2 separate regions of the Homo sapiens genome follow, and region 1 is linked to region 2. Evidence: fine-mapped expression QTL. A gene starts in region 2. The other region holds a variant in brackets. All regions are shown on one strand. Distances are from middle to middle. Region 1 has its middle 160 kb from the start of DKK2. Region 2 holds the start of DKK2 (dickkopf Wnt signaling pathway inhibitor 2).

What was found.
Region 1: its variant is fine-mapped to the expression of DKK2 in cerebellar hemisphere (GTEx, PIP 0.96).

Annotation. Positions count from the first base shown.
Region 1 is chr4:107,189,478-107,205,300 of GRCh38, reverse strand. It overlaps the pseudogene RAC1P5. Among named protein-coding and RNA genes, the nearest start is that of DKK2, 160 kb to the right of the region's middle. The variant C/T (reference allele first, on the strand shown) is at 9,542.
Region 2 is chr4:107,029,582-107,045,404 of GRCh38, reverse strand. It overlaps DKK2 (dickkopf Wnt signaling pathway inhibitor 2), which reads left to right and starts at 9,092. Exons shown (of 4, transcript NM_014421.3): 1 at 9,092-10,035. The coding sequence starts at 9,814.

The sequences.
Region 1 (15,823 bases), 160 kb before region 2:
AACGTCTGGTTGGTACTCACCACTGTGGCCCCATTGGCGGTGAAAACATTTAAATAATTATAAACAGCTGCTGCTCCAACTCCCTGAGTAGCTCCTTGCTGACCCAACCCTTCCAGCTCAACCGGCTCAGGCATCCTCCATAGGACCCCCAGCACCTTCCCTGTTCTTCATTCCAACATTAAATTGTCAACACCTAGCAAAGCAAGGCCCTCCAGAGCTCCTGTTACAGGAGGGGGCTCTATTTAACTTAGTTGGTATCTGTGCCCTGCCAGTTACTAAATATTTCGAATATCGCACTTAAATGAAATAAGAAAGTGTGTGCACAGGCACACGCGCACACACACACACACCCCGCTGAGCATAAATTTAAAAAGCATATTTGTTAAGGGTTGAGCATTGTGCTTCAACACTCTTTCTTTGAAGGAACTTACTATATTTTTTTGTAGTCAATAACTTCTACTTTTTTAGTACTTTTTGATATTATCATTCTACCTTAAGTTGGACATTTCTTCACAAAGCAGCTCAAAATATTTGAGTGGCAGCTTTTTTTAATGATTCAGGGATTTATTAGGTCATACATGCAAAACACACTGCTAATTGCATTAGCAAAAGATCAACGTAAAAACACTCCACAATTCTGCAACTGTCAACTTAAAAATTTTTGTTCTAGTGGTTGAAAGGTCCTCCCTTGTACTCTTGCCAGTGAGTTAAGTTGTATAGAACATCGTCAGCACCAGCACAGTTTACAGAACCTCACAAACCCAAAGGAACATCATTAGACTAAGCAACTACAAGGAAGCATATGTCCACATGCGGGTGAGGTAAAGAGGGTCAGTATTGGTCAAGTGACAGTGTCAGTAATCTGGCAAGACAGCGATGTTAAGAAGGTTCATAGTTTAAGAATTATCTAAAATATTTTAAAAACTATAAAATTGCAACACATGATTTTTACACCTAGTTACTGGAAAACTAAGGAAAGCACTTATTAGCTTTGAATAAAGTAACATGGAAAGCACTTTTACCAATCTACAAAAAAACCTTCTAATGCATTATGAGAAAGATTTCATAATACAAGGAGGCATATTGCTCATTAAGAAAGGGTTCTATAAGAAAAGCACTTACTAAGTTAGAGACTAAGGGAACGACCAGTTTAAAGATGAATTAAATGCCCAATTTGGGGGGGGATGGCTGATGTAAGAGAAAGGAAAAGCTTAAGTAAACACTTCCTGATAATACCAACCTTTCTTTAATCATCTACTGCATTTGACAGAAATTAACCTTTTAGAGGTTTTACCCTTGACACTTTTATTCCTTGTACCCGCCGCTTCTGGTCTCAGCGCCCTGCTGCTGCCCCTGCGGCCCAGCGAGCGGCCCAGATGCAGGCCATCAAGGGTGTGGTGGTGGGAGACGGAGCTGTAGGTGAAACTTCCTACTGATCAGTTACACAACCAATGCATTTCCTGGAGAATATATCCCTACTGTCTTTGACAATTATTCTGCCAATGTTGTGGTAGATGGAAAACCGGTGAATTTGGGCTTATGGGATACAGTTGCTCAAGAAGATTATGACAGATTATGCCCCCTACCCTATCCGCAAACAGATGTGTTCTTAATTTGCTTTTCCCTTGTGAGTCCTGCATCATTTGAAAAAGTCCGTGCAAAGTGGTATCCTGAGGTGGAGCACCACTGTCCCAACACTCCCATCATCCTAGTGGGAACTAAACTTGAACTTAGGGATGATACAGACACGACTGAGAAACTGAAGGAGAAGAAGCTGACTCCCATCACCTATCTGCAGGGTCTAGCCATCACTAAGGAGATTGGTGCTGTAAAATACCTGAAGTGCTCGGCACTCACACAGCGAGGCCTCAACAGTGTTTGACAAAGAGATCCAAGCAGTCCTCTGCCCACCTCCCGTGAAGAAGAGGAAGAGAAAATGCCTGCTGTTGTAAATGTCTGAGCCCCTCGTTCTTGGTCCTGTCCATTGGAATCTTTGTACACTTTGCTCAAAAAACGGTGGAACCTTCACACTCAATGCCAACTTTTTGTTACAGATTAATTTTTCCAGAAAACCATTTTGAACCAATCGGTAAGTTTAAGGTTTTGTTTGTTCTAAATGTAAGAGTTCAGACTCATATTCTATTAAAATTTAGCCCTAAAATGACAAGACTTCTTAAATTCTTATTTTTCAAAAGCCCCATTCTTGCTCAGATTAAGAGTTGCCAAAATACCTTCTGAACTACACTGCATTCGTGTGCCAAGAACACCGAACACTAAACTGTGTAAAGACCTTCGTCTTTCAGAAGACTGTAGCTTCTGCAGTTAGGAGATGCAGACACTTGCCAAGTAGTTGTCAGATGCGTGAAGCAGAACAGCCTCCTGAATGAAGCGTTGCCATTTAACTCGTGGGCTGATTTATCAGCCCATTTTCATGAGGTAACATTGTATAATGGAATGGGTGCGACATCTCAGCTCTTTGGATAAGTCTTTTTGATTTCACAGTGAATTTTCTAAAAATTAGTTGGCCAACTTTTGCTGAGATTTTGAACAGAACTCATGTGTTTCCTCTAATGAAGTATTCTGTTTAGTTGTGGGTGTGCTGGGTGGGGTGTGTGTGATCAAAGGACAAAGACAGTGTTTTGATAAAATATTTGAGTAGCAGTTTCTGTTTACGTGAGCTCTATACAAGGTAGTAACTGCAAGATGTTCTTATTCACATTGTGGAAAAGTTTTAGGTGCCTATTATTAAAGTGCTTGCAGGTTAAGAAATGAATCATGGTGGGTCCCTGGATTTTCTGAATATTTACACTCTTCGTATAAACATGAAGTCATTGGCAGTTATACAGGAAAAATAGTTCTTATAGCCCCAAAATATTTCAGGTTACATATTTTCTGTCACTGATTTCCCCTTCTCTCTATAGGAATTATAGAAAAACAATTACTATAAAGCCTTACTAATTTTCAGGATCAATTACTCCATATGAATGTGGATTAAACCATACAAAACATGGTTTATGATTAAGGTGGCATCATATTTTGATCTAATAATCATTAATCTCAATCATGCTCATTGAGATACAAATTAATATTGTGCATATGTATCTATTACCACAGGTCTTATTTCTCAAGCTTACTAACCAGAAAACATGAATGGATTCTGAAACTGTTAGCAGTAGTTAAGTTTACAAACTTACAATCAGCAAGATCTAGGCTCAAATCCCAACTTCCCATAATATTCGCCAATGACTTATTTTTTTTCAAAGTCTCAGTTTCTCTTTTTGTATAATGGTACTTATAACAGTAACTATTTCACAGGGTTGCTATAAGGATTGGAAAAAGTGATGCATGAAAAATGCTTAGTATACTATATGTTAATTCTTATGTTTTATTTCCTTTCCCATTATGAAAAGCATTTTCAAATGTGTATATTCTTTAGTTGTTTTCCACCAGAAAGTTTAAGAAACTTTCAGTTTGATTAATTGGCATTTTTGAAATCCCTTTCATTTGAACTATTTGGAGTATTTCTTTAGGAAAAATTTTCATGGGAGAAGAATGCAAAATAAATATTACTCTAGGCGTGTAGTACTTTAACAAAACAGATAATTTTTATCTACCTCTGCTCCTGAATACAGTCTATTGGTGCAGAGTGTGTGCCTTTTTAGCCTAAAACACACCAAACTTAGATAAGTGCTCTCCGTGACTTATGCTAAGGAAGACAAGAGATATTTGTGAACCTAAAAGGAATTGGACCTATCTCAAGCCTGTTCTTCAGACCTTAACGTATTTTTATTTTTTTAAATCTAAAAGACAAGAAAGATATAGAACTATAGGGGTAAACAGAAAGTCAAGTGTGTAAAGCCAAATAGTGGCAGGACTTAAGCAGTCTTCCAGAGAACAAATCAAATTTATCAATTCACAACTGCAGAGAATTTTGAATGTAGGTGCAAGTTTTCCAAGGCTTTATGTGATTTTTTTTGGCTTTACCACACTCCACCACAGGATTAGGGTCTCATTTCATGTCACCAAAGTTTTATAGTTGAACTCCTATGCCATTTACTTACAACACTTCAATGACAAAACATACTGTATCTTATATTAAAGTGATTTTTGTTTTTACTAGGCTATAGCTTCCTTGAGGACATGGATTATTCCTGATCCATTTATGTATCTATTGTAGAGTCTATCATTGTGCCTTCTAATATTTAAGCTGCTGATCAATGTGTTTCAATGAGTTGGAAATAATATCAATGAGTTATTTGAATTCAGGAAATATGTAGACTTCATGGTACATTGTCTGGCATAGAGTAAATATTTCTCCTCCTTGCAGCTTCTGTGATAGTTTTTGCTATGTGGGTGTATCAGTCCATTTTCGCACTGCTGATAAAGACATACCTGAAACTGGGAAAGAAAAGAGGTTTAATTGGACTTACAGTTCCACATGGCTGGAGAGGCCTCAGAATCATGGTGAGAGGCAAAAGGCACTTCCTAACATAGTGGTGGCAAGAGAAAAATGAGGAAGAAGCAAAAGTGGAAACCCCTGATAAACCCATCAGATCTCATGAGACTTATTCACTATCACGAACATAGCATAGGAAAGACTGGCCTCCATGATTCAATTGTTCAGTAAGAAGGGGTTCTATAAGAGAAGCACTTATGACGTTAGCGACCCTACCCCTGGGTCCCTCTCACAACACATGGGAATTCTGGGAGCTACAATTCAAGTTGAAATTTGGGTGGGGACACAGCCAAACCATATCAGTGGGTGTGCAGGTGAATCCAGATATTCATAAACAAGTTTATATATGGGGATAACAGTACCATAAATCTATATTTATTAAGAATACAAGAATCTTCCATAACCTAAAATGATTTAGATTATTGAAGAAGAGGATCTTATGAATCTCATTCCTTTACAATATTTAAGTGTCAGCAGAGTACTATTAATAAAAAATTATGCCCACTTAAACCCAAATCTTATTTTAAACAATTCACTGTGGAAAATAGAAGATATTTCCAAGATTTCTTTTAATTATGAAAAGTATTCCAAAATCTTGCAGGGGAAGATACAAAATTGTTAGTGGGTTAGGGACTGAAAAATGTCTGTGTGCTTATATTTTGGCATCTTCATCAACCATGGTAAAATAATCAGTATCTTAAATAAAGTGAGAAAAGGAAATGACAGCTATCTGTGTCATTCTCATCACTAGGGGCCTTCTCAGCTCATCACCCTGCCTTCTACTTTACTTTTTCATCCCTAATAACTGTGGCTTACCAGCATGTTCTCTATTACGTCCTTAGGTCCAATTCACAGGCTAAACTTATTCACATCTCACATCAGCTTTTCAGCTCCGTGTACTCCTTAGGAATCTCTCAGAATGTCTTTGCCTTGGCTCTGTCATAGAACAATATTCCTTTTGAAGAAAAATCCTGGCTGGATCCCTGTTATCATCTAGTTCCCTTTCATTTGATGAAATCCTAGATCCCTCTTTTAGAGAAGCATTCAATTGAAGTTGAAATAGAGTAAATTCATCTGTATAAGGTATATGTGAAATGGCTCTTATTCTGTGGCGTCCTGGAAAGTAGTGGTGGCTTTGGTTGCTGTGTGTTTGAAACTAGCTCATCAGGAAGGCAGGTGCCTGATGAAGAATAGAACCCTTTTCAGTATAAACACATTCCTTTAGTGTTATATCAGTGAAACAAGGCTTTGGGAGTAAGAAGTCCTGGGTTCAAGTGCTATGGATGCTGTGGATGCCTTGCCCCATTGCCCCTGGGCCCACCTGAGCTTACCTGCATCTGTGATGAATAGTTTCCTGCAAGCTGATTCTTGCCTCAAGTAGGGCGGCTCTCCACTACTCATCTGAGGGCTTTCACTAGAGCCTTGGGAGCTTACCCTGTGGCTCAGAAGTGCAGGGGAGTTAAGGTCGCCAAGGGCAACCCTCTATCCACGTGGAATGGGACATAGTGGATGGAAACACAGTCATCCAATTCCTGGGTGGGAAAATTCAGAGGCCTACTCCACAAGGTTTCTCAGTAGCTCCCCAGCAAGACTGAGCCCTAGTTGCCACAGTAGTAGTCCATTCATTCATATATCTTTATTGAATTTTTTCTTCCTTGTCTCACTTTCCCTATTCTCTCCTTCAGATTTCTGAGGGTCACTTCTTAAAGAAGCTACCTGAACCCAAGTCTGTCTTGAGATTTGCTTTGAGAAGAACTCAAACTAATACATGATCCTAACTATACACTAACTAGTTTGAGACGTTGAGAAGGTTATTTGATTGTTCTAAGTTTCTTGACCTGTCAAATGAGACAGTTGGACTAAATGGATAATTTTGAACATTAAAATATAAAAATAGTTAAAAGTGATGAATACATTTTTAGGTAGTTTACAGGGTATTTTTTTGTTTGTTTGTAAGGCAGACATTTACTTGTTTGTAGATCACTGAGGCATATTCTTGACATCCTGGGTTTCCTTAGAGCATGATTTTAGAATAACTGCATTAGATGATTTTTAAGGCTCATGGAATTCTGGGATTCCAATCATGAATAAAGATCCTTGAGGAGCTTTCTACCTCCACCCTAATCTCTTAGGCTATTTCCCAAACTCCAAACCCACAAAGATCCAGCTTAGAATCTTTCATCCCCACACCATCTGTGCCTATTACCAATTGGTTGTGCATGTGTGCACACATGCATGTGCACATACGTGCATGTGTATTTCCATATTCCAAAAAACAAATAAGAAATATAATCTCCCGGCTTGTGGCATTCTATTGTTTCCCAGAAATTTTAGTATAAAGAATATAAATTCTGATGATATGCTGGGTGTTGATGGGGGCAAAAAATGTTGACCTCATTTAAAAAATGTTTTTTTACTTTATCATAGGGGGCTTTCAGACTTTTTTTCTTCTATTTCCTATAGAGGAACAATTTAAGTAATATTTTCAGCTTGAATACAGACCATATGTATATGGAACTTATAAATGCAGTTACATACCACATAATGATGTTTTGGTCAACAAGGGACTGCATGCATGACGGGGATCCCATAAGATTATAATACTGTGTTTTTACTGCACCTTTTCTGTGTGTAGATACACAAGTACTTACCACTGTGTTACAGATGCCTGCAGTATTCAGTTCAGTAGCATGCTATACAGGCTCTTAGCCTAGGAGCAGTAGGCTATACCATATAGCCTAGGATTATGTAAGTACACTCTATGATGTTCACACAATGACAAAATCACCTAATGATACATTTCTCAGACTGTATCCCCATTGTTAAGCAATACATAATTATATTTTAGGGAGTCTGTGTGCTGTAAATTTTTTTTTCCAATTTCAAATCTTTGTTATTTATGTAATTCTCAAAAGTTGTTTTCCTGTCTGCACCAAGGTATTTTGACTAGAGTTTTAAAATAAAACTATTTGTCTTAGAAGTATCCATAGGCCTCTTTATTTCCTCCCTTTCCACACTTTTTGCCTGTGCTGGGATCTGAACTTTCATCAGCCTATCTTCTATTATTTTTCTCAGAATACGTCAGTTCATTCCGTTGCCAATCTTCCTAGAGACACTTTCTCCTCATCTAGACCATCGTTTAGCTTGTACAAATACACAGGAATAAAAACCATTTCTTGGTATTTTTACTTTCTGGAGGAATACTTTTTATCTCATTTCCGTTGTTCATCAAGTCTTTGCCTTTGTAATCACATGGTTTTTATTTTTTTTTCTTGAAGATAAATGGAACAGAGAATCAGATTCAAGAATTAAATTTGGAGGAGAGATAGAATAACCTCTACCCAAGTTTCTGACAAATGTACCTATCTAGATAACACGTATACAGGCTCTGTTAGGAAGGATTATTTCTCCTGAAGATAATTCTTAGTGCTGTTAGCTCACCATTTCCTAGTGAACCTGAAAGTCAGTGAGAAAGAAAATAATTTATATAACCGTCACAACCCGGAAACAGAGTCCCATATTTCCAGGGGTGTGGATGGTTGCAAATTCCTTTTACAAGTTCTGTATTTACCCAGCAATTTTCTATAGTGTTTCAATATTTTGAAATAGAGGACAGTCTAATGGCTATTTAACATAGCAGAGAACAGAGAGAACACACATTTTCCTTTCCTAGGTGGTTTTCCTTGAGCCATTCAGCTGCACATATAGCCCTTTACGTTGTTTTGTTTCTGAATGCCAACTTTTCTTTCCTAAGGGGTGCACCCTACCACATCACTTCATCTCAATATAATCTGCACTCAAACCATGAAGGCTGAGGAATGTGTCTCTTATCCCCTACACCTGAGTATAAGTTCCTACAAGGCAGGAACTCATCTGTCAGAACTGAGCAGCACGTTGGGTGTGTGATAGGTCCCTAATAGGTGCTGGTTGAATAAATCACCAAATTACTAGAACACATGTTTTAGACGTTGCTTTTGGATGAGGCTTCATTAGGAACTTTCTGAATGTCTCAAGATATTGTGATTTGGCTGCTTTTCAGAAACTTGGAATAGCTTTTTGGTTGTTTCCAGTTCCATGCATCAATTATGTATCTGAAGTTTCTCTCCTACTGTGCATGGCTTTGATGGCACCCCAAGTTTTGAGCTTTCTGTATTTCGTTGTCAGATTATAATACTGTATCTCATTCTTGGTCTGGCCTGTTCACCTCAGACACTGATGTGAAAAACAAAATCCTTTTCATTTACTTTCCCTCTGTCATGTGCATCCCCATGTTTAGCTGTGGTCATGTCGAGTATCAGCCCACACCCTGCAGAGATGACCAAAGGTCCTGTGATAGGTGCCAGGGCAGTGGTAAACTCACCACAGACTAGTCTGGGGACATTCCAGGGAGGGGAACAACTATTTTCCCTCCTGTTTTAGTTCCAAGATCCTGCAGCAAATGAAGCCAGCATGCCTCTGCATTGTGTTTTATATTATTTCTGGGCAGGAATCACTATGATGTGTTATCCCTGTTAGCACCAATGTTCCTAACAGTTGGCCAGCATATAGCCATAGGTAGAAAAGTTGACAAGTTTCATATGTTTTTCTTCACTTTGCCTCTTCCTATTTTTCCCTTCTGTGGACTTTTCTCGGCACATTTCTTTCTAAATTGTTTTCGTTCTTTATTATCTTATCACGACATCTATTGAAAGATGTTGCCAGGTCAAGATCTTAGGGTGGTGGATAACCCCTAGAGCCTCCTTAGAGTCACATATTCAGTTAGGATCTGCTTTAGGGTATTAGGAATAGTGAGGTAGCCCCAGTAAAATTTCTACATTTGTTCTCTTCCTGTTTCACTAGCCACCTCCAGTTTGTCTTTACAGATGACTGTGAGGTTGGACAGGGCCTTTCCCTTCTCATTTGCTATATTTTCAGATGGTGACGGATGACAACAATAAAAATAATTATCTGCTGCATGCTAAATCGGTGCCAGGCAATGTTCTTTGTCTTGTACATAGATATTTTATTTAACTCCCACAGTGACCATATGGATTAAGTGTTATTCACCTAATTTCTTTAGAGGCCTCTAGTTGCTGTTCTTGTATG[C/T]TTACTAACCTGATATTTATGGCCCCTTCCTGTCATAATATGTCGATTTTCTGAGCCTTAATAACTTTCCCCTCATTTTAAAAATATCACATTTATTATATACCCTATTAATTGATGGAGATGAAGAGGATTATTACTATTTATGTTATTTCATTTTCCCATTCAATGATTTCGATGCTGCCTATAAATTCAAGGTGGCAAAGGGAAAAAAAGGTAAAATGCATGTGGAACCGTTTCTCTTTTGTTTTTCTCCTTTCTAAGGATACCATCCTTCCATATTTTCTCCTTACTCCTGTTTTTCTCATCCCTCTCACCCTAGCCCTAACTGCAGCTTCACATCCCTCTCACCCCCTTTACCAACTTGTCTTTTAAACATGTGACTTACTGCTAATTCCCTCGGTTAGTTGATGAATACTCTCAGGAACAGAGCAGTGAAACAACTTGCCAAGTTTACAGAAATTAGAAATACGCCAGAGAAATATATGGGCATTGGAGCTTATCCTTTGTGAGGCCCAGCTCAAATCTTACTGCCTCTGTGGAATCTTCCCTGAGTCCCCCTCCGCTTTCTCTAAAGGCAGAGTTATTCCCCCTGCCTCTGTTATCTTGGGTCACTATATATATCCCCCAGCACAACATTTATCTCAGGATATTATGACTGGAGGTTTATTTCTTTTCTCTGTTAGATTGTGAGACTCTTTATGGCAATCACTATGACATTTCTCCATGTATACCCTGGGTCTAGAACAGTGCTTGGCACATGGTAGATGCCAGATAAGAGTTTGTTCTGTGACAACTACATCCATGCTGCACAGTTGGCTGCTATTGTATTCTTGTTTTCTGAGGTCCTGCTTCATATGGATCTTGTTGTTTAGTGGGCAGTGATCAATAGAGTAGGGTAATCCTATTGACTCAGAAAAATATATAAGACAATGTGGGTCCTAATCACAGAAGTTTTATAACAAAGATTCCAATTTTAAGTTCGAAAGCTTCAACTAAAACCAGGCCTAAATCATTCATGGAATCTCCTTTACAAAAACTATAAAAGGAGTTTAAACATGAAGACCAAATTTAAAATGAAGAGTTTCATATTTATGGCTGAGGTTTTCTCAAGGCAGTGAGAATTTTGTGTACACACACACGTATTTGCTGCTAGAGGTTATTTTATGTGGTTATGTAGGCTTTCGATTTACATATAAAATATTACCAAATTGTTTACATCCATGAATTTGTGACATAATTTCAGCTTGACCTGTGGTAACTTTCCCCATGTAGGCACAGAAGGAGACACACCTTTATCCCAGATTTTAACTCATAAGCAGAAGTAACTTGCTAAAGGAGTCAGGAGAGAAGAAAAAGAGAAATAGCTATGCTTCTAATAGAAGAGAGCAAGCAAACGTTGATTTAATCAATTGATTTAGTTTTAAGTAAGAGAACAGATGTTTTCTGTTAGGTCCCTGGTGAAAATTCAGTAGGCGCCAGTGATACTTTAGGATCAGTGGCTTCTGATAAAATTGAAAGAAAGGTCTGGGCTGTTCTTGCTAAATGGGCTTTTGCACAGCAGGCCTGTCACTGTGGTATGACTTTTCTCTTGAACGGGAGTTAGCACTCCCTTCCTTGTGCATTCATGCTTACTTTCTCACTTCCCATTCACATTTGCCTTGCATCCCTTAGAATATGATATTTTGCTACTCTTACGTTGTTTGAAAATATTAATTGGAAAGAATTATATTTTCTACCTATTTGAGTCCAGTTTTCTGTCCCAGCAGAAACACTTATAGTGTCTTTTGACTTTCCGTGGGTTATAACCTTTCTGAGTGGTTGAGTTTCAGGAGTGGGTGAGATGTCTGTCTCCTGATGCTGTCTTCATAACCTACCCAACTCCCTGAGCCTTGCTATGGAAACAACCAGAACCCCACTCACTAAAACTTCAAAGGCTTCCTCTGAAGGTTTCTGAGTCTCCATTCTCCAAAATGCCAGCTTTTCTTTTTCAGCTTCTTGAAAATCACTTGCAGTAATATGAGCCTTTTCCTTCTCATAAACACTCCAATTATGTTCATATTCTTGAAATTTCGTAGCTGAACATAATTTGTTCCTATGCTTCAAGTAATACCTCATCTTCATTGTCACTCCTTTTTCCCAATTAGCCACCCTCTCACCCATCACTTGACAAACAACTCTGCAAGACTCTAAACTCTTTATGATTAGGAAATGTCCTATAAGATTTTAGGTCCTAGGCAGAGCATGGCTCCTAGTATGTCAGCAAATGTTTGTTGAATGAAGACAGATGTTTCTTTCATACTGACTTATTAAAACCCGTGTTTAGGCAGGCTACCTTGGTCCATCATAAACGTCCTACTTAAGAAATCAAGATAGCTAGATAGTCAAAGAAATGTGTTCCTTGGTCATATTTTCCATAATGAATTCTCCTCTTATTGGCCATGCATTTTGCATTATCTAATCTATACATCCATTTGGTCTATACATCCATTTGCTTACCATCAGTCTGTATTGAGCAACAACAATAATATCTAGAACTACACAATGATTATTCTTGCAAAATAAACTAGCCTTGAAAACTAATATAGCACTAGCATGCTAAGAAGGAATTTTACCGTCTAGTAAGTCTATTCTATGGGAGATGAAATAAGTGACCACTTTTTGATATCTGCCCAGAATAGATTGGCACCTACTTGGAACATTATTCTATTGCTTGACTAAATTAAGTGGAAGGATGATAAGGATACTATTATGACACATGGAAACTCTTCCATAGTTTCCTTCCCAATGCATCTGTAATGGGTTTGTTCCGATTTTCACCCCTCAGTGTCATCCTTTATCCTGTCCTTCAAACTAAAACATCTGCGGTAGGAGCTGGCGAGTGTTTCTTAAGCAGGAGTTCGAGGAATGCTTATTTGAATGGAGTTGACTTCTTGCTCTCCCCCAGGGACAGAGGTGTTGATGGTTTCCATCAGTAATGACCTCATAGGAAAGATGTGTGCATTGCAAAAAGCACCACTACACCTGGCACTGATTCATGAAGAAGCTAGAGCCTGAGTATAGGTGATCGCCAAGACAGAACTACTCTTTCTCCAATCTGGGCAATTCGTTGGCCCCAATCTGGAAGCACATTGGGAAAAAACATAGCAGAGTCTGTTTAAACTGTATCATCCCTCTGGAAACAGAGACACCTGATTTCCCAGGCTTTATTTAATATTTAATGTGCATAATTTAGAAATGTTAAAATAACTTTTCTCCTGCTTAAAAAACTCACAGTTAGTTACTTATTAACTCTGCACGCATTCACTCATTAACCAACCCACATTTGGCAAACAACCGCTATGAGGTAAGCACTGTGTGAGCAACAGAAATACAAGGGAGAGGAAAACCGGAATTGCCCCTGCCCTCATGAAGCCTTTAGTCTGTGAGAGAGATAGATCTCAATCAAATAATCACACAATTGTACAAACGGAGATAAATATGATGAAAGGAAAGAATGTTCTAAGAAAACATCTAGCAGAACAACTTTCATATAGTTTTGGGTCAAGGAAGGATTGTCTGAGCTACAACATTTAAAGGAAGAATGGAAGTTAACCAGATGAAGTGGGTAGAGAGGATAACTTTCCAGGCATAGAGAGCAATATGGGCTATGAGACCCTGTTGCAGAAAGCAGCATGGAATATTCAAGAAGTGTGTAAACATGGTTCAGATGAATCTTGAAGGGTATGCAGGTACAAACCATTGTTCAATCAAGTTTAGCCTAAAGCTGCCTCCTTACATGTTTTAAGTGTGGCCTAAAGGTTTTTCTGTACACTGTGAACTAGAACAAGTAGAGGTGTAAACAGGCCGTAGCCTACACTTGTGCCAATCATCGAGTTTTGGCCAATCAAATGTAGCCAACTGCTCAAACTGTGTTCAAATAAGGCAAACCCCAACCTGTAATTAATCCAGCTGTTTTTGTACCTCACTTCCTTTTTCTGTACATCACTTTCCTATTTCTGTCCATAAATCTTCTTCTACCACATGGCTGCGCTGGAGTCCGGAGCCTACTCTGGCTTGAAAGTCTCCCCGATTTGTGAATCATTCATTGCTCAATTAAACTCCTTTAAATATAATTCGACTGAAGCTTTTATTTTATCACCATGCAGATATTTATTCTCTTCCTATTTTTCTTTTATAACCTGGCTTGTTTAAACTCCATTCCAGTGTCCCACTAAAAAGTCCAACTCCAAGTGGAGGGCAGGGAGACTTGATGAGCAGATGACCTTGGCTGAACCTTTGCCTCTTTCTAGCACTGTGTAGGTGTCAGTCCCTGAACTTATGAACGTCCTAAAGCAATAATAAAACCTTTCATAGAATGAGGAATACTAGGCAGAGAGGAAATCTAGCCAATTAGCTTATCTATTTTCTTTCTATTGTTGGGGCTGGATCCTTAGAAAGAACAACTTCTCTACAAAGGGGACATCATATTCTTTTAGGCAAGAAGAACTGTAGCTCATACCTTTTGTTCCAGTATAATATATAATATATATTATAAGTCCTTCCCTTTTGTTACAGTTAGAGTTATGGTTACCTTTTCTTTTGTGAGATTCTCAGTAAAAACAAAGACCAGCAAGTAAAAAACTCCTGCAAAAAATTGGTTGCAAAAAAAATGTATCTAAATCTTCACTCCTCCATGTATGCACACATTCTGCAATAAAATTTTGAAGCTCCTGTCATCATGAAGTGGAGCCTATTTCCCCACAGTTTGAATCTGGGCTGTCCTCATGACTTTCTTTAGCCAATAGAATGCTGTGGAAGTGACTGTACTGAGTTCTGAGCCTGGACTTCCAATGGCCTTGCATAATTCTGCCCTTCTTTCTTGGAATCCTGCCCCTGCATGATAACAAACGCAGGCTGTTGTGATGGAGAATAAGGGACCATGTGGAGCAAAGCTGAACTGTCCTAGCTATCTCCCTGTACCAGCCAATCAGTCCATCTCCCTGGCCTGCTAGTTGACTATAGATGCTTGTGCAAGCCAAGATCACTTAGCTGAGTCTGGCATAAATTGTACCAGCAGACTCATGGGCTAAATAAATTGTTCTTTTAAGTCACTAAACTATAGAATAATATTATGCAGAAAAATATTTCCTAGTGATTACCTATTTTTATTTTATTTAATAATTTATTAAGTTATTCACAAAGTATTTGAGTACTTTCTATATGCAAAGCACTGTTTTAGGCTTTAATGAGATAAGTGAATAAATAGATATAGTCTCTGTCTGCAAAGGAATGTGATACAACTCCTGAGAGGAAGTGAACAACTGCAAAAGCAAGGTGAAGAAGTGCTAAATTTGGGCCAAGTTGCCCAATAGGCGCAATTTTAAATGTAGCTTTAAAATTTAAGTGTAGCTTTAAAATCCTCTAATTGATTGATGAAAGACTAGCCTCCAGCAGGAAAAAACAAGATGGTGTGATCTGAGAACAGGGGAAGCTTCTTTGAAATCAGTTTCAAGTGGTGTGGTCTGAGGGTCTTTACTGAAAGCAGTAGGCCATCTCAGCTATTCACTTTCTTCTGCTGAGAATAGAAGTAGGACCTACCAATAGAATGCTGTCTTTCATTGTTATATAATTAGAAACAAATATTGCACAGTACACATAAAATAATAATGCCTACAGAATTTTTAATACATTGAATATATTTTTGTAAAGATCTCACCACTGTAAATTTTATTCTGAGTTTATTCCAATACAAGTTCTAAGACTTTTTGCCTGAGCATATAGTCACCGATTTCCAACAAATGCCAAATAGCTCAGTATTTCCAAACATAGTATTTCAAGAGCTGTTTTCAAGAACTGGTATTTCAAGAACTGTTTTCGGTGACCAATGTTTCTTTCTAGAGCAATGTTGAACACATAATAGAGACTCAAAAATAATTGTTAACTTGTATTAAACTAAAAGCTTTCCATTTTGTTAGGAATGAAGGAATAAACAGTTGACTAATTTCTTGTTAGTTTTGTGTTTCAGTAATCTCTTACATAACCAAATGGCTAAAGAATAAAATATTCTGGCTAAATTAAATAGTCTGACTAGCAAAAGACTAATATTTACTTTATATATTATGGGTTTACTTAATAAAAATAATAAAAATTCAGTAGTAATGCTAACACTAAAATAATAATTGAGTTTGCTTTTTTTATAGTTATCAAATTTCATTGCACAATATAGTAAGCAATATATAGTATTATTGAGATTTACGGATGTTTGAGTTCCATACAAATTTCTTACAAAAAGCTGTTACCTAT
Region 2 (15,823 bases):
CTCATGACCTAAAGTGATCTGCCTGCCTTGGCCTCCCAAAGTGCTAGGATTACATGCCTAAGCTACCGCACCCAGCCCAAACTTCCTTTTTTATAGTAACTGATATTATGTGGGCCTTGTAATTATTGGGAATTAGGCTTACTCACCTTGTCACCTAATTTTACTCTAGATGTGTGTGTGTGTGTGTGTGTGTGTGTGTGTGTGTGTGTGTGGTGTGTGCTCGTATGTGCATTTTGGGGAATTGTTATCCTCATCTCTTTTTCTGGTTTTACATAGCACCGCATGAGTTAGAAAAACTATGCCATCATGTATTCCCAGATTCTACCTTCAAATTTTTACCTATGAAAATTTTGAATAACATCCTCACCTCCTACCATTGTTTTGGGTCTGCTTTATTTGATGGTTTATTTCAAGCGGTGGAACAAGGTGTAAATTCGGGATAATGTGATTGAAGAAAGAAACAGCTTGCTGAAGTAATTTTTGAAAGAACAAAGACAAAACATTGCTAACATCGTTAGCGTAGTAGGCAGTACAGCAACTAAAGGAAGGTAAAGATGGAAGTCCTTGGATTTTGTTGCATTTTTTTCAGGTAGTGAGAGAAAGACAGATAATAAAGTGGTAGTAAGTAAGATGAAAAAGGTGCTGTTAATTTCCAATGCATTCTGCACAGTCATGAGACCATTTACAAAGTTGCCTACCTGCCTCTGTTTCTGAGTAGTTTGGAAGAGCTTTTACAATGCTACATGGGCAACATCTGCATATGCCTTGGCATAGGAAAATCGTTCCTTTTCTATGAAGTTAGATAAGAGAAAACCTTCTGAATGTTTTTTTAGTTCAGTCAATCTAATATTTGAAGAGTGTTGCAAACTTTTCATGAGAGGAATAGATGCATTTATTTATCAGTTCTCCTCTATTTAATAACACTGGTATAGGAAAGGCCATTAAACACTTTTCTCCAGAAAAATTACTTTGTAATAATCTCTGGCTCATCTCTCTTACCATGACAAGTGTCCATTACTGCCCTCTGCTGCATGAACTTGGACCTCTCAGTATTTCCGACTAATAATCACTATAAGATCACTACTTAAAACAAACAATAATAACCATTACTAACCATTAACAGGAATTCTTTTGTTGTCAGAGAATAATACCATGATGGGTTGTCTTTTCCATCCCCCACATATAAAGATTTACTTAGAGGCATTCCTTAGAATGATTTCCTTAGAGACATTTTTAACATTAAATAGTCCCTGAAACAGAAAATTGGGTATGATTGTGTCAGCTATATTCAGGAAGTGTTTCACAAGTGAGTGACAGATATCATCATACAAATTAATTTAAAATCAGCCATCTTAGGCAGTATCTACACTTGGCTAAAGAGAATGAAGAGTTTGGACTATAACATGTATAACTTTTGGTTAGAACTTGCAGCTGGGGGCTTTTCTAATGAATTACCTTCTAAAATTATGCTAACATATAGGAGGAACACGAAGTAATTTAGTGAATTTGGAAGTTGTATTTAGAAGGCTGGAAATTAGCTTACCTTTTCATGTTAAAAAGAGCCCCAGTTTATAGCTATAGTCCATATATTCCTGGCCTCAGTGGTAGCTACCTCCAGTGTTAAGTGGTGGGGTGAGGTACATTGAATATTATAAAACAAAAAGATGGTTTTAAACTTTCAGTACTTCTGTTAATACTGAGCATATTTATACAATACATTTTGATATATAAAAGGCAAATTGATCAAAGGTTTGAGAGTTTCATTTTATTATTAATTTAAAAATACAACATTGATTGGCATTGGAGGACAAGGCTAACCCAACAATTTCAACTGTAACATATAAACAGCTGTTATGTTCTTGGAGATATTGATTGTTCTTTGATATATACAAATGTTCACATACATTCTTGACAATAACAACCAAAATACATTTTATAAATTTCAGAAAAAAACAACAAAAAGCTAAAGTAAATTTGAGCTTATTCCAAATCAGATTTCTTAATAACTTAAAGACTAAGTGGTCAAGTGCACTTATATTAAAAGTGATTTCATTACCAGTTTCAATGAAATTAGATATCCCCTCTGTTTTCACATATTTAGCACTGCCTTGAATTAATTAAAGGTACTGTGATTCCAAGGAACTATTAACTTTCTGAGTAAATTAAACAAATCAAATTAAATAAATGGACAAATTAAGTTAGTAACAGAACAACTTGCTGATTGCTAGATCACTGTAGTTTTGTTTGCTGCTTCCTTTTCCTTTGATCTACCATGATTTCACTTTTCTATCATGTACTGATATGTTTTATTGTTTCCATCTTTCATTAACCAGGCATTTATAAAAAATGTAGAAATGACTTTATCTTCTTGGCAAATTGCTTGCATTCTCTCTTTTCCTTTTCAGGGCCCCAGTGGAATATTGACAATCACAGTCAGACTCAGTTGGCTGATTTCTAATTTAGCCATAAGTCACACAAAAAGAGAAGGTGAAAAAATGAATATCATTAACACAGATCCAGAAATAAAATGGTAATAAAAATATTTAAATAATGTTTTCAAAATAAACATATAACACAGTTCTCCTTTGAGTTTAGGAACTCTGAGAAACTGCTGTATGTCTTGTGTACAGAAATGTTACTCTTTTCCCAAGTGTTTTAATATGCAACTACATGTATAAATCTATCTGTTATGAGCTGAATTTTGCCCCACGCCCTGCTGCCAAGTTCATATGTTGAAGCCCTAAGTCCTACTACTTCAAAATGTAACCACATTTGGAGATGAGTTCTTTAAAGAGGCAATTAAATTAAAATGAAATTAGGGTAGGTCCTAATCCAATATGACTGGTTTCTTTATAAGAAGAGGAAATTTGAACACAGACGTAGGGATGACCACAGGAGGACACGGTGAGAAAGTGGTGATCTGTGAGACAAGGAGAGCAGCCTCAGAGGAGCCCAAACCTACCAACACCTCGATCTTAGACTTGTGGCCTCCTAAATGGTAAGGAAATGCATTTCTGTTGTTTCAGCCACTAAATCTGTATCATTTTGTTATGGAATCCCTAGAAATCTAATATGCCATCTGTAGCAGAGGGCCTTTTTAAGTTCTCTGCTATATGATTTTTAAGGCCCAAGAGTTTTACTATATTAGGCAAAGCTTCAATACATGTAGTCATGTACTTATATTTTTGGTGTTCTTTGCAACCGTTTACCAAATGACTTATTTTAGCTCCTTCAGAGGAATCTGTGTTGGGGCCTGCTACAAGGGTGAAATGGCACCTCCAATTTCTTCTGATGGGTTCCCCTTTTCTTGTGTGCCTTCCACATTATTGCCATAACTGGGCATTCGTTACTACAAATGGAGACACACTGTGCTGCAAGCTACTCTTTGCTCAGTATTATTTTAATATTGGACTGTACATTCATTGTCTTAAAGGGATGAATTGTGGGATACAAATAAGAGACACTATATGTAAAGTGTTCAACAAACCTGGCACATGTAAGGCATTCAATAAATCTGACTATTATTATTACTTTTATTATTGCTGTATATTCTAAGCCAGTTACCTATAAAATTCCTTAAGCTGACTGCAGCATAGTGTCTTGACTTTCTTATATCCCAAACTATTTTTGAGCCTAGGTATTATGATTTATACCTAGAGCATCAAAAAGTAGGATCTATTACAAATGAATCTTCCAAAGATAAACTAAGCACATTTTTCATTTTCTGTTACCAAGCCCAGTTATGTTTCAAAGACAGATTTTTGAGTTGCCTCTTGAGAATCTATGTCTTTATTATTTGCAAGTAGTTTTTCCATTATTTTTAGTCTGCACCACAGTTTATTTTATGTGTGGTAAGAGTATAGTTAAAGTTTTGCCATATTCATTAATCATAGGTTCAGATAATTGATCAGGAATAAACACATTGTACAATGAATGGATTAGCTACCCTGCCTTTTCATTTTTAATGTTCCCTACTTTAAATGACCAAATCATTTCTGACTAAATAAATTGCCATATTTTTAATAGTTTCCCCATTTGAGTAATGTTCATTTTGGAAATTGTCTGTAATACTAACAGGGTAGAAATCAATCCATCATGTATTTGGTGGGTTGACGGCTCACAGAGTATTTTGTCCAATAAAACAATAACAAAAACAGGCACTTAAAATTTATCTTTGATCCAAGAGCTGGACACCTCTCCTCTGAAATATTATAAAAATTAGCACAGTTCTCAACTTACTTTGAGACCACTGCAGAACCCTAGAGACCCGAAAGGAACAGAGTCTGAAAATCACTGGTCCAGATTATCTAAATGTTGTTTGTTTTGTTGCTCATCAAGATGAGATTCCTTGGAATTGAACCTCACTCAAGAATTAAACATATGATTCTTTCACTGCCAAGTATTACTTGGTACTTTAGTACTGATTCAAAAGCTGAATCTTGAAAAAACCTGCCAGAACTCAGCAGTGAGAACTTACCAAAAAGGATATGCATTGTACAGAACTAACAAAAATTTTATATCGTAAAGGAAAATGTTTCTTATTAAACATTTGATGACTTTTTCTAATTCCACCTCCATCTATGGTCACATATATGCACAAGGCTCAGCAGAAGTTTTTATCTGCCTGAGTTTCAGATTATGTTATTTGCATTTTTTTTATTGTTTGGGTTCAGGCTCAAGGGGTAATATCTGTTCAGTAATCCTCTTTCATTTAAGTGGCAGGTGAAGTATGGATAAGATGACTAACTCGTTAAGGTTCGAAAAAGAAGCCGTTGGCTGAGCAATTGTTTCAGATTGATTTACTGTGAAATCTTCTGACCCATTTCACTTGTGCATGTTTTTGTAAGCATAGCTAGTGAATCAAATGTAGGTGATGAGATCTTTTTTATTAGCTGGTCCTGTTGTCCATGAGACCTTATCAAGATAGCATCAACAACTGAAACTAATGCAGGGATCAAATAGGAGATGCAATTTTTTCATATCTGGTATGAAAATTATTCCCATCAAGAAACACAAAAAATTTTCACAATATCAATGCAAGCTTACATTTGTTACCAGGTATTTAGAATTAATTTGCAGCAACACATAAGACTGTTGTTCTTAGGCAGAGGAGAAACATAAAACTCTCAAAGTATGAGTATTACTAGGCTACAGAGCCAGGTAGCTTGGTTTACTATGGAGAGGGAAAACCCATATAACCTTATTTTTCAGATCCTTAACATCCATCAAGTTTCAACCATACATTAAAGATTTTCATGTCTATTCTGTGTGTGCAAGATGCTTTGCGGTCCTGTGGGACCTACCAAAGACAATCTTACTTCCCAGGTTTGCTATTCTGTTCTTATTGACCTAACATGACCATCACTAGGGTCATTTCTTTGGGTTCAACGACAAATGTAGAAGTATTGTCTCTATGTACACCATTAAAATGTGCATTTAATTCTGAAGGAAAAAAAGAACTCTGGGGGACATATCTGATCACTTATATTCCCATAGTCACATGAATTCAAGCCAGCTTGGCTTGAATTCAAGTTGCAGCTATCCTGTGACAGATTGAACTCTGAGACTGGCATAATTCAGCAGTGGATGAGAATAAAGGCTCACAGCAGCAACTTCTGAGAGGGGCTAGGAGCAGATTTTAGTATATTAAGGTGTCTACAGAGCTCCAAGCCCCTTTAGAGGCAAGACCCCCATTCATTCACCTCTGTGTCCTCAGGGCCCCATACTTGCTTCACGTACGGGGAATGCATGAACAACTGCTAAAAAGGCTATTGTAGGAAATATTCACTAATGCAGGGAGAGAGGTAATGGGATGAAAATTAGTAAGCTTCAGTAAACAAGACTAAGGTAACAAGTTATATACTTAACTTACCTTTGGGATTAAGTATTCAGAAGGAATCCAGGATCCAGAAACAACTGCTGAGAAAGTAGTGGCTTTTCTATGGAACCAAAATGGCCCCACAGCTAGAGGAGCAAAGATAAGAGGGAATGTATGGCCAAAGGAAAAAATGTCCATTAAGGCACTTTCTTCTGGACAGGAAGGTTGTACATCCTGCTTTTGTACAGTCTTGTTTTTAAATATCTACTCTCTAATTATATTATTGCAAATGGCATAAAAATCTACTTTCCCAAGTAAAATATGAAGCTTTTGTCTTTACACTTAGGAAAACACACACAGGAAAAACACATATGGGGCCATGACAGTAATCCACAGGATTATGTTTATTTACAGTTAGTTGATTTTGTGTGTGCATATCTACTTGTCAACATATGGGTCATGTATGTTTGTTTCTGTCTGTCAAAAAAAATTTACACAAAGCATTTGGGTCATGAATGAAATTAGTTTTTGACTGCTTTTTAGCCTAAGGCGTAATTGTGTATGTTTTAGCTTTTGATTCTATATGTCTGATTTTGTTCTATATGGAAGAATGTTTGTGTAAGTAGATTTTATGTCGACTTTTAATTTAACTGTATTTGTAAAAAATTGCTTTTGGAACTTGCGGGGTTTGAATAAGCCTCTGAGATAATGTGTTTAGGATGGTACTCAGAGCTGAGAGTAAATGTGTTGTGCTTGATATATGTTTTCTGTTTAGCAGTACATGTGAGTAAAGTTAGGCCTGTGTATGTGGGATATTATTTTATTTAGAGGTAAAGAAAGAAGGAAGTGACAGAAATAGGCAAAGCATCTTCACATTTTCTCATGGTTCATTTGGGTTTGTTCTTCAACATATGGTCAAAGTCTACACCCTTCCAAGTGAATGTAGAGTGATCTGTTGCCTACATGTTTAGCTTCTATCTTTTCCTTTTGCTCTAAGCTACTTTTCAAAAATATTTAAACCAGTATACTCCTAACTTAAGTTTCTCAATTTCTGTCATGCTTTCTGATTGGCAAATCAGAATGAAGGCAAAAGATATACTCTTCTGTAAAGTCTAAGCTTGGAATCGTTAAGTACTTATTTATAGAGTAACGACCCATTTCCTTGCCTTTTATTAGTGCCTAGAATGCCTCACTTAACTTTATAAACTTACAAATTTATTACTGGGCATATATAGATGTTAAATGTTCTTACTACAATCATGTTATATGTATAAATACATATATATATTATACATGTATATAAAGTCACACACATATAAAATTTATATCTATATAGCATGAGATCTACCTTCTCAATAAGTTTTTAAAAATACAATGCATTATTGTTGGCTATAGGTACAATACCATATGACAAATCTCTAGAGTTTATTCATCTTAGTTAACTGAAACTTTATGATCATTGATATAGTAACTCCCCATTCTCCTCTCCTTCCAATTCCTGGTAACCATCATTCCAACCTTTGATTCTATGCATTTAACTATTTTAGGTACCTCCTATAAGTGGATTTGTCTTTCTGTGATTGGTCGAGTTCACTTAGTATGATGTCCTTCAGGGGTCACCCATATTGTTATTCCTGGCATATTTTTAAAAAGTGGAAAAAAAACCCCACACACTAAAATGTGAAAAATCTCTACCTTAAAGAAAGGAAATTCAAAAGATAAGAACACATGCCAGAGGGTGCATATTTTAATCCCCGTTTCCTTGTGTATTAAAAAAAAAATCTGAAAATGAAGAATTTCAGGGCAGACAGACTCATAGGTCAGGACTGAGAAATTTGCAAAACTGGAGCTGTCTGGGAGAAAATAGCTCTAAATCCACACTTTAGAACTCTGCGTTGTTTTGGGGGAAAATAAGAGTCACCAACGTTCTCACTTAGCGACAAGTTTAATTCGTACTCATGGACATGCGCCAGGATCAGGTGTGAAAGCTGTGAAATCTAGGTCCAAAAATTCTGAAGAGGATGCTGCTTGTATCCTCCCCTGGCGGCTAGCTGCCTTCTAACTTCAAGTTGTGGCTCAATGCTTGGATTTCTCTGCTCCTGGACATTAGTGTCTGCGAAGCAGAAATGCAATAACTTTCGAACAATCCCTTGCTTTGCTTGGAAAGTCTCGCACTTGGCCACCAGACATCACCGAACTCAGCGCTTGTCTCCTGCAGCAATTCCGTGGCTCGCTGAACGGCTGCCACTGGCGCCCCCAAGCGCCAGCGCGTCCCAGTCGTTCCCGGAGCAGCCTTCGACCTTCGGCCGAAGGGAATTGGACCTGGAGAGACCCGGGGGCTGACAGGAATGGCTTCTCTTGTAATTCACTGGGGCTAGAAGGCAGGAAGCCAAGGAAGACAGGATCTCAAAGGCTCCCTGCCCCCGTTCATTCCTATCTGGGATTTCCTATTCGCAAAAAGAGCAGTTGCCTGGCATGGTAAAGATGCTCATTCGAGCTGTGAGGTCCAAACCCTTGGAGCGTACCCAGAGCATCCCCTTCTTCCCAGTCCCTCAGAGACATAGACATATTCTACGAGTGCGGCGGGGCCCGGGGTTCCGAAGGAGGAGACTAAAAAGACCCAAATCGAACAGGCTCATCTTTTCCCCTCTTTGGTCTGCCCCTTTCCTTCCAGACCCTCTATCCGGATCATTGGCCACCCCCTGGCGCACCTATGTGGCTCCAGCTTCACACACTCCCTGGGAGGCACAGTCTAAAACCAAACGTGAGCTCACAAAGAACACAATACTAATGAGCAGATGCGCAGATGCTCACTTCTCTAAAGCTTCCATAGGGCTTTTCCAGCTCTCCTCGCGGAGTCAGGGGCTGAAGATGGGTGGGAAGATCTAAGAAAGGGTGGCAGCGATCAAGTGGTGTCAGCTTGCCCCACTCCGTTTCCACCTTTGGTCTCTGCCAGTTTCCAAAGACCCCTCCAACCGCTGGAGTTGTTGTCAGGAATTAGGAGCCCCTATGTTCCATTCACCTCATGGAAAAGCTAGATCCCCCTTTTCCAGTAGTTGTGGGTGGAGACAGAGCGGGAGGATGAGGAGGAGGAAAAGCTGGAGTGAAAGCCGCAGAAGCAGAAGCAGCACGCAGAGAGGAGGGGGGCGGAAGCGGTGGGGAGTGAGAGAAAAATTTTCACTCTTTGTCACTCTTGAATTGGGGGCGGAGGTAAAAAAAAAAAAAAAGTCCTCACTGTGGGAAGCTATAAAAAGCAAAGAGGACTGGGGAGAGAGCAGAGAGAGAGAAAGCGGGAGCCCGCGGCGAGCGTAGCGCAAGTCCGCTCCCTAGGCATCGCTGCGCTGGCAGCGATTCGCTGTCTCTTGTGAGTCAGGGGACAACGCTTCGGGGCAACTGTGAGTGCGCGTGTGGGGGACCTCGATTCTCTTCAGATCTCGAGGATTCGGTCCGGGGACGTCTCCTGATCCCCTACTAAAGCGCCTGCTAACTTTGAAAAGGAGCACTGTGTCCTGCAAAGTTTGACACATAAAGGATAGGAAAAGAGAGGAGAGAAAAGCAACTGAGTTGAAGGAGAAGGAGCTGATGCGGGCCTCCTGATCAATTAAGAGGAGAGTTAAACCGCCGAGATCCCGGCGGGACCAAGGAGGTGCGGGGCAAGAAGGAACGGAAGCGGTGCGATCCACAGGGCTGGGTTTTCTTGCACCTTGGGTCACGCCTCCTTGGCGAGAAAGCGCCTCGCATTTGATTGCTTCCAGTTATTGCAGAACTTCCTGTCCTGGTGGAGAAGCGGGTCTCGCTTGGGTTCCGCTAATTTCTGTCCTGAGGCGTGAGACTGAGTTCATAGGGTCCTGGGTCCCCGAACCAGGAAGGGTTGAGGGAACACAATCTGCAAGCCCCCGCGACCCAAGTGAGGGGCCCCGTGTTGGGGTCCTCCCTCCCTTTGCATTCCCACCCCTCCGGGCTTTGCGTCTTCCTGGGGACCCCCTCGCCGGGAGATGGCCGCGTTGATGCGGAGCAAGGATTCGTCCTGCTGCCTGCTCCTACTGGCCGCGGTGCTGATGGTGGAGAGCTCACAGATCGGCAGTTCGCGGGCCAAACTCAACTCCATCAAGTCCTCTCTGGGCGGGGAGACGCCTGGTCAGGCCGCCAATCGATCTGCGGGCATGTACCAAGGACTGGCATTCGGCGGCAGTAAGAAGGGCAAAAACCTGGGGCAGGTAGGAAAACCCCCAAACACATTCTTCAGACAGAAGAGGCAGGGGCCAGCTCTCTTGGGCTAGCGGTTTGCCATTGCATCTTGCAACATTCGGAGCGTGGCCCCAGATACAGAGAACAGGCGGCTGGGGAGGGATTCACCGAACAGGGTCTGCGTGGGCGGGGGGTGTCTGGGTGGCTGCTGGTCCTGCACTGCACGGAGTCAAAGGGTTAGGATTCTGTCTCGCCTTTGCTCTGGGGCGTGGGCACATATCAAGATCTAGTGCTTTCCTGTGGAGAAAGTGGTCAGGATGGTCCTTCCATTTAACACTGTGATGCAACTGATGAAGATGTTAATAGCATTTAACCTATAGCACCTAATAACGTGCCAGGCACAGTTCTAAGCGTTTTACATATTCACTCATTTAATCTTCACAACTCTGTGAGCTAGATGCTGTTGCTTTCCCATTCTGCTAATGAAGTAATTGAGGCACGGATTGATTAACGATTTGCCCAAGGCACACAGCTAGTATAAGTGGCAGAGAGGGATTTCAGTCTAGACATTGAGATACTGGGCGTTTAACCATTATATTTTACAATCTGGAGGGGACATTACTCCTTTTCAGGGTCTCCTTCCCTTCCAACCACTTACTCTCTTCAAAGAAGTAAGGTCACAGACAAAACAACTCCAGTAGACGCGCATTTCTCACTCACGCAGAATTGTACATAAATCACCCGGAAGGAAGCAAAATGATGAGATGACAATGACAGCGTCGTAGGCGCCAGCGATACAGCAGGACACTGAAGGCGTTTTTGAGAGAGGGAACTTTCCGCAGGCGCCTCTGTCTCTGTCATACAGACAGATAGATTGAAAGCCACTTGCAAACTGTTATACAAATAGACACGCACAGAGACGAGCGCGCACACTCGGTACCAGTTGTGGCTGGCGCGCTGTGGCCAGGAGAGGGGGCTCTGTGGGCACTGGGAATCATGACAGCTCCCCCTTCCGCTCCTTTTGTGGGAAGCCAAAACTGAGAAAGCCATTTTACCAATGGCACACGCACCTCGCACAACACAAGTGTCAACCCCTGGCAGCGGCCCACGCCCCAGAGATCCGAGTTTCCTTGGAACCGACTGATGCTGCTGTTTTGCGCGCTCTCGGTGTCCTCCGCCGCCCCTGTCCACAGCGCAGCCAGCCGGCTGAAGGTTGGTTGAGAGGGCCGAGCCATTCTGGGATGGACAGAGAGACAAGACCCGGGCTTGGCCCCCTACTGCCCTCTCACGGGGACAATTTTGCAGTTTTGCTAGTTTTGCAGTTCCAGAACTCTTCCCAGAGCTTTGAAGTGTGAACCGTTTCAGCTATCCTTTCAAGGGATTACAAAATCAGCAATCAGATTTTTTTTAAGGTCTCAGGAAAAATAAGAAAGTACATATACGTTCAGGCAAACATAACCGTTGCACATCCTCACACACGTGCACATGCCTACGCGCTTATGTGACCACTTTCCTTCGCTTTTTCTCTCCTGCGAGTCACCCCAGGATTTTCAATAGCAATGGTCCTAACAGTTTCTTAGAAGTCTGTCATGAAATGGAACAGGGATTAGAAAGAATGGGTGCTCTCAATCCAAATCATGACTCCTCTAATGCTACTGACTTCAAATTTCATGTTCCCAGTTGAAGAAAGCTTAATGTGTAGTTCCCCCAAGGACACAGGGAAGGAAACCTCAATAGTCCTGAGGTTCCTTTCCATTCTAATCTATGTATTTTCTGGGAATTTTTGTAAAGCGCTTTTTGTTTCTGTTCCACTATTGGGCCAACATACCTGATGTTCCTCTGTCAGAAAATCAGTTACATGCGTCGTTTCATTAGCCTTAGCGTTACACAGGGGAGACTGAGGGATGCATCCCAGAACCTAGCTTCTTCTTTATGTTTTAATACTGTATCTGTATATAAATCGGTATAAAATATGTTTTTGTGGTGCTACCTCTCCAAATAGCTACTTAATTATGCTTCTTAAAGAGTTTGGAAGTCTACTTACATCGCCTTAAATTGAGAATTTATTTATTTATTTCACAAATGAGTTGAATTTCTTATATGCCTTTCATAACATAGCAGTTCTATGGAATATATTTTATTATATTTACTTAACTGGAATCCTAGATTGTTAAAATTTGACATTAGGCTTGTGAAAAAAATTGTTAACATATTCAAGATGAAGGTAAAACAAAATAAAATACTGGGTTGAATAGCAGGAGGCTAGCTGGCAAATGTGAAAATTTTATTTTGTGTATTCTTCTTTAACGAATGATCTAAAGTATGTACTGTTATGAAGAAACAAATAGTAAAATATTTTCTCTTTGAAGTGAAAAGAATAATTCTTTGGATACTTATGAGTCTCTTTATCTTTTTTATTCTATAGTTATGTGGTCACCAACATTCTTAGTATTATTATTTTCAGAAATGAAATGGAAATTAGAAAGGCTATTACAGGGAAGATGTTATTTCCTTTTGTAGAGAAAAACTCTAGAATAGAAAGGTAGCTGAGCTGAATTTTTATGCATCACAATAGTAAATATGATTGAAAATATTGGAATTAATGTGTCAACTAATCAAATTAGCTAATCATGTAGTATCATCCTAAGACCTAATAAGTTTTATTTCCCCCAATTCCCTTTATACTTGACAGATGATGTTGAAATATATTCCTTTCAGGGATACAGGAGGAAGAAGCTCTAGGATGCAGCTTCAAGTAGGCAGATTGGAAACTCAGTCCTTGGTGTTCTTTCTCTTAAATGGATGTTGAAAATAGCCTATTTTAATTTTTCAGGATAGAGAATTAAATATTGCCACTGCAGAAGAAATTCTTGAATAAATTTAGTAATTCGTTAATCTACAAAAGTGAAAATGAGACTATATGAGCTCTATAGTTTTATTGAAAGTTGCCTGATTTCATATAAAGATAAACATTCTTATTTACAGGAATTCTACTTGTTCCATAGGCAAGGTGGATTATTTGTAATATCACTTCTAGAAAATGTGGCTTTGAATTTTAGAAAAAATTTAGAGAGAGAAAATCCACTGTTCTCCAGAGGTGTTACATTTCTCAATTTAAGGTTGGCTTTCAAAAACACAGTATGAGTTATAATGGAAACTGACATAGGAAATTGAGAGTGATAGTATTCAGATGATTGATACAGAATTAGCAAAAAATGAACTGCTGAATTATTCGCATCAATGTTTTAATTTGCCTTTTCATTTGCAGCTATTGCTAATAAGTACTGCATGTATGTGCTGTATATGTATACAGGCTAAATTAAGTTTCAGACTGTTACTAGTATATTTACATAATATATAAATATTTATGCATTTTAATATATATGTCAATTTCTAAGGATACTGTTTCAGATGTTCTAAATTAAAAGTAATTTCAAACAAAATCTTCAATATCATGTGAATAAATATATTTTGATGAAGTATGCCATTTCTCGATACTATCTCTAAAGTTTGAGGTGTTGACTTTTATGGACCACCTTCAAAACAAATTTTAAAAACCCAAACTACTAAAAAAATCAAGCTTTGCAATTCACATATTTTTCTGTGTGAATGAAAAACCTTTGGATTTGTGTTTGTAATTGCTTATTTTATTCTTCTCGTTTTGTCTTTCTGAGACGGGCAGATGAATTTAATTTGAATGCAATGCAGTAGCATTTTGCAATTCTTTTAAAAGTGACTAGAATAGTGATATTTATAGTTATATTTTAAATGTAGATAAACTTTCTGGCATGTGTTTCTAAAAAGAAGCTATGGTTTAACACAAATTCAGATTCTATGATTTTCTGATATGACTGGGACACTTCAAGGATAGTGGTTTGGATGAAGTTATGTTGTGAGAAAAGAATTCTTGAAATTCATTGAAAGAGAAGCTTGAACGAGTTGACTAAAGAGCACTAATATTTGTAGACTGCATTTTCTTTAATGAAAGTGTGCTGTATCTGTATGCACAAACATTCATGAAAGTGCTCACTGAAATAAACTATATACTCTAATATTCGGTAAGGGATCTCTTTACTTTCTGAAATTATCCATGACTTTTTTTTCTAACCTCAGCCCAACTTTCTCCTGCTTAGGAGTAAATAATCTGATAGCCTCTCTGGACATTGACTAACACTAAACACAATCAGGAAAGCAAATCATTTTTACGATTAAATTTTAAAAAATAAAGGAATTTGAAATAATCTACATTAACGTTCCTTTCCTCTCACCATGAATTATAGAAAATTGATAGTTGATACAAGTGGAAAGTTAGTTCTTGAATAGCAAGAAAAGTATTTTAATGATAATCTAATATGAACATCCATCATTTTATTTTTGTGTTAGACTAGAGAGCGCAAGAGGACAAAGTTGCTCAAACTTACTCCAGCTGTGACTCTGACCCTGTCATAATCTTCTTGAATATTCTTCTACAATACAAACTTTTGCACCCTCTTCTCCTTTCCAAGATATTTTGAAACTTATAATTTTAAGATTAGGTAAGGCAATGTCATAGAACTATAGCTAGTATATTCTGATCTAGGAAAATATTGGCTCTTCTTCATTTCCTTACAAAATTGCTTTAAATGTACATTAAAATAATCGGTTACATTTTAGAAGAAATTTATAATAGTTAACATATTTACCATTTTAGACTCAGTCTCTAATGGCTGTTTATTCTTTAGTATTGAATTAACAGCAAAATCAATTACAATCAAATTTCTACCTGTGACTTTCTGACGGCCTGTTGGAGTTGTTTTACTTCCTTATGCCTCTAGTCACTTGTGCTCACTTATAACAAGGAGATAAACCCGTTTTTAGTTATTTATCTGATTGTTCAAAAGGTTTATGTGATATTTGTGTCTGCCTGAGCCCCTTACTACGTCCTTTTTTTAACAGTCCAAAAGCATAAACCAAAAGGAAGTAAGGCTAATCATAATTGATAGACATATTGCATTATGTAGCATCGCTTTAAGATTACACAGAAAGATTTAATATAGAATGCATAAGAAAAATTTAGTATTACTATTTAAGGTAAGCAAAGGTCAATTTTCTGTTCCTCCTCTGTCCACTCTTGACAGGAACTAGAGCAGAATAACATATTTTTCTCTAATTGTAGTGTTAGGACAAACATAAAGCATTCTTTCAAAGAAGTCAGTCGATACAGCATTTGGTAGGTTCTTTTCTTTGTAATGGCAAATTTAATCAAAGAAAACTTTAAAGCAGAAAGATTGCAATATCCTGTTAAATTTTTTTTAATAGAAGTAATTAGTTTATGTATCACTAACAACAGAATTGCTACTCTAACATGTATTCCACAACCCCTGAATCTGCACAACAGATTATATTTTGGGAACCTGAATAATAGTTTAGATTTTTCTATGTGCTTTAAATATAAATTCAGAAATAAAATCAGCAAAAATACAAAAGTAGTCAATTTTTAAAAAAATGTTACTTATCTTTTTCCACAGAGTCAAAAGGGACAAATGGACATCAGATATCCTTTTAAATACTTTGCAGTATCTAATTTAAAACAAAATAATCTAGAGCAAAAAAAGAACAAATCTACAATTTTAAAAAATCAATGAGCAAATAAGTACATTAAATGACAAAACAAATAAAAATATCACAATTAGGGAAAATGACTTCTCAAAGTGGTAGTTCTGTCCAAACCTTTCCCAAGAGACATTAGATCTTCATGTTATACTTTATTATCCGGAATAAGATTGTTCTTTCTTCAGGGAAATAGAAGAAGTGAGCGATCTTCAGGTATATTATTTC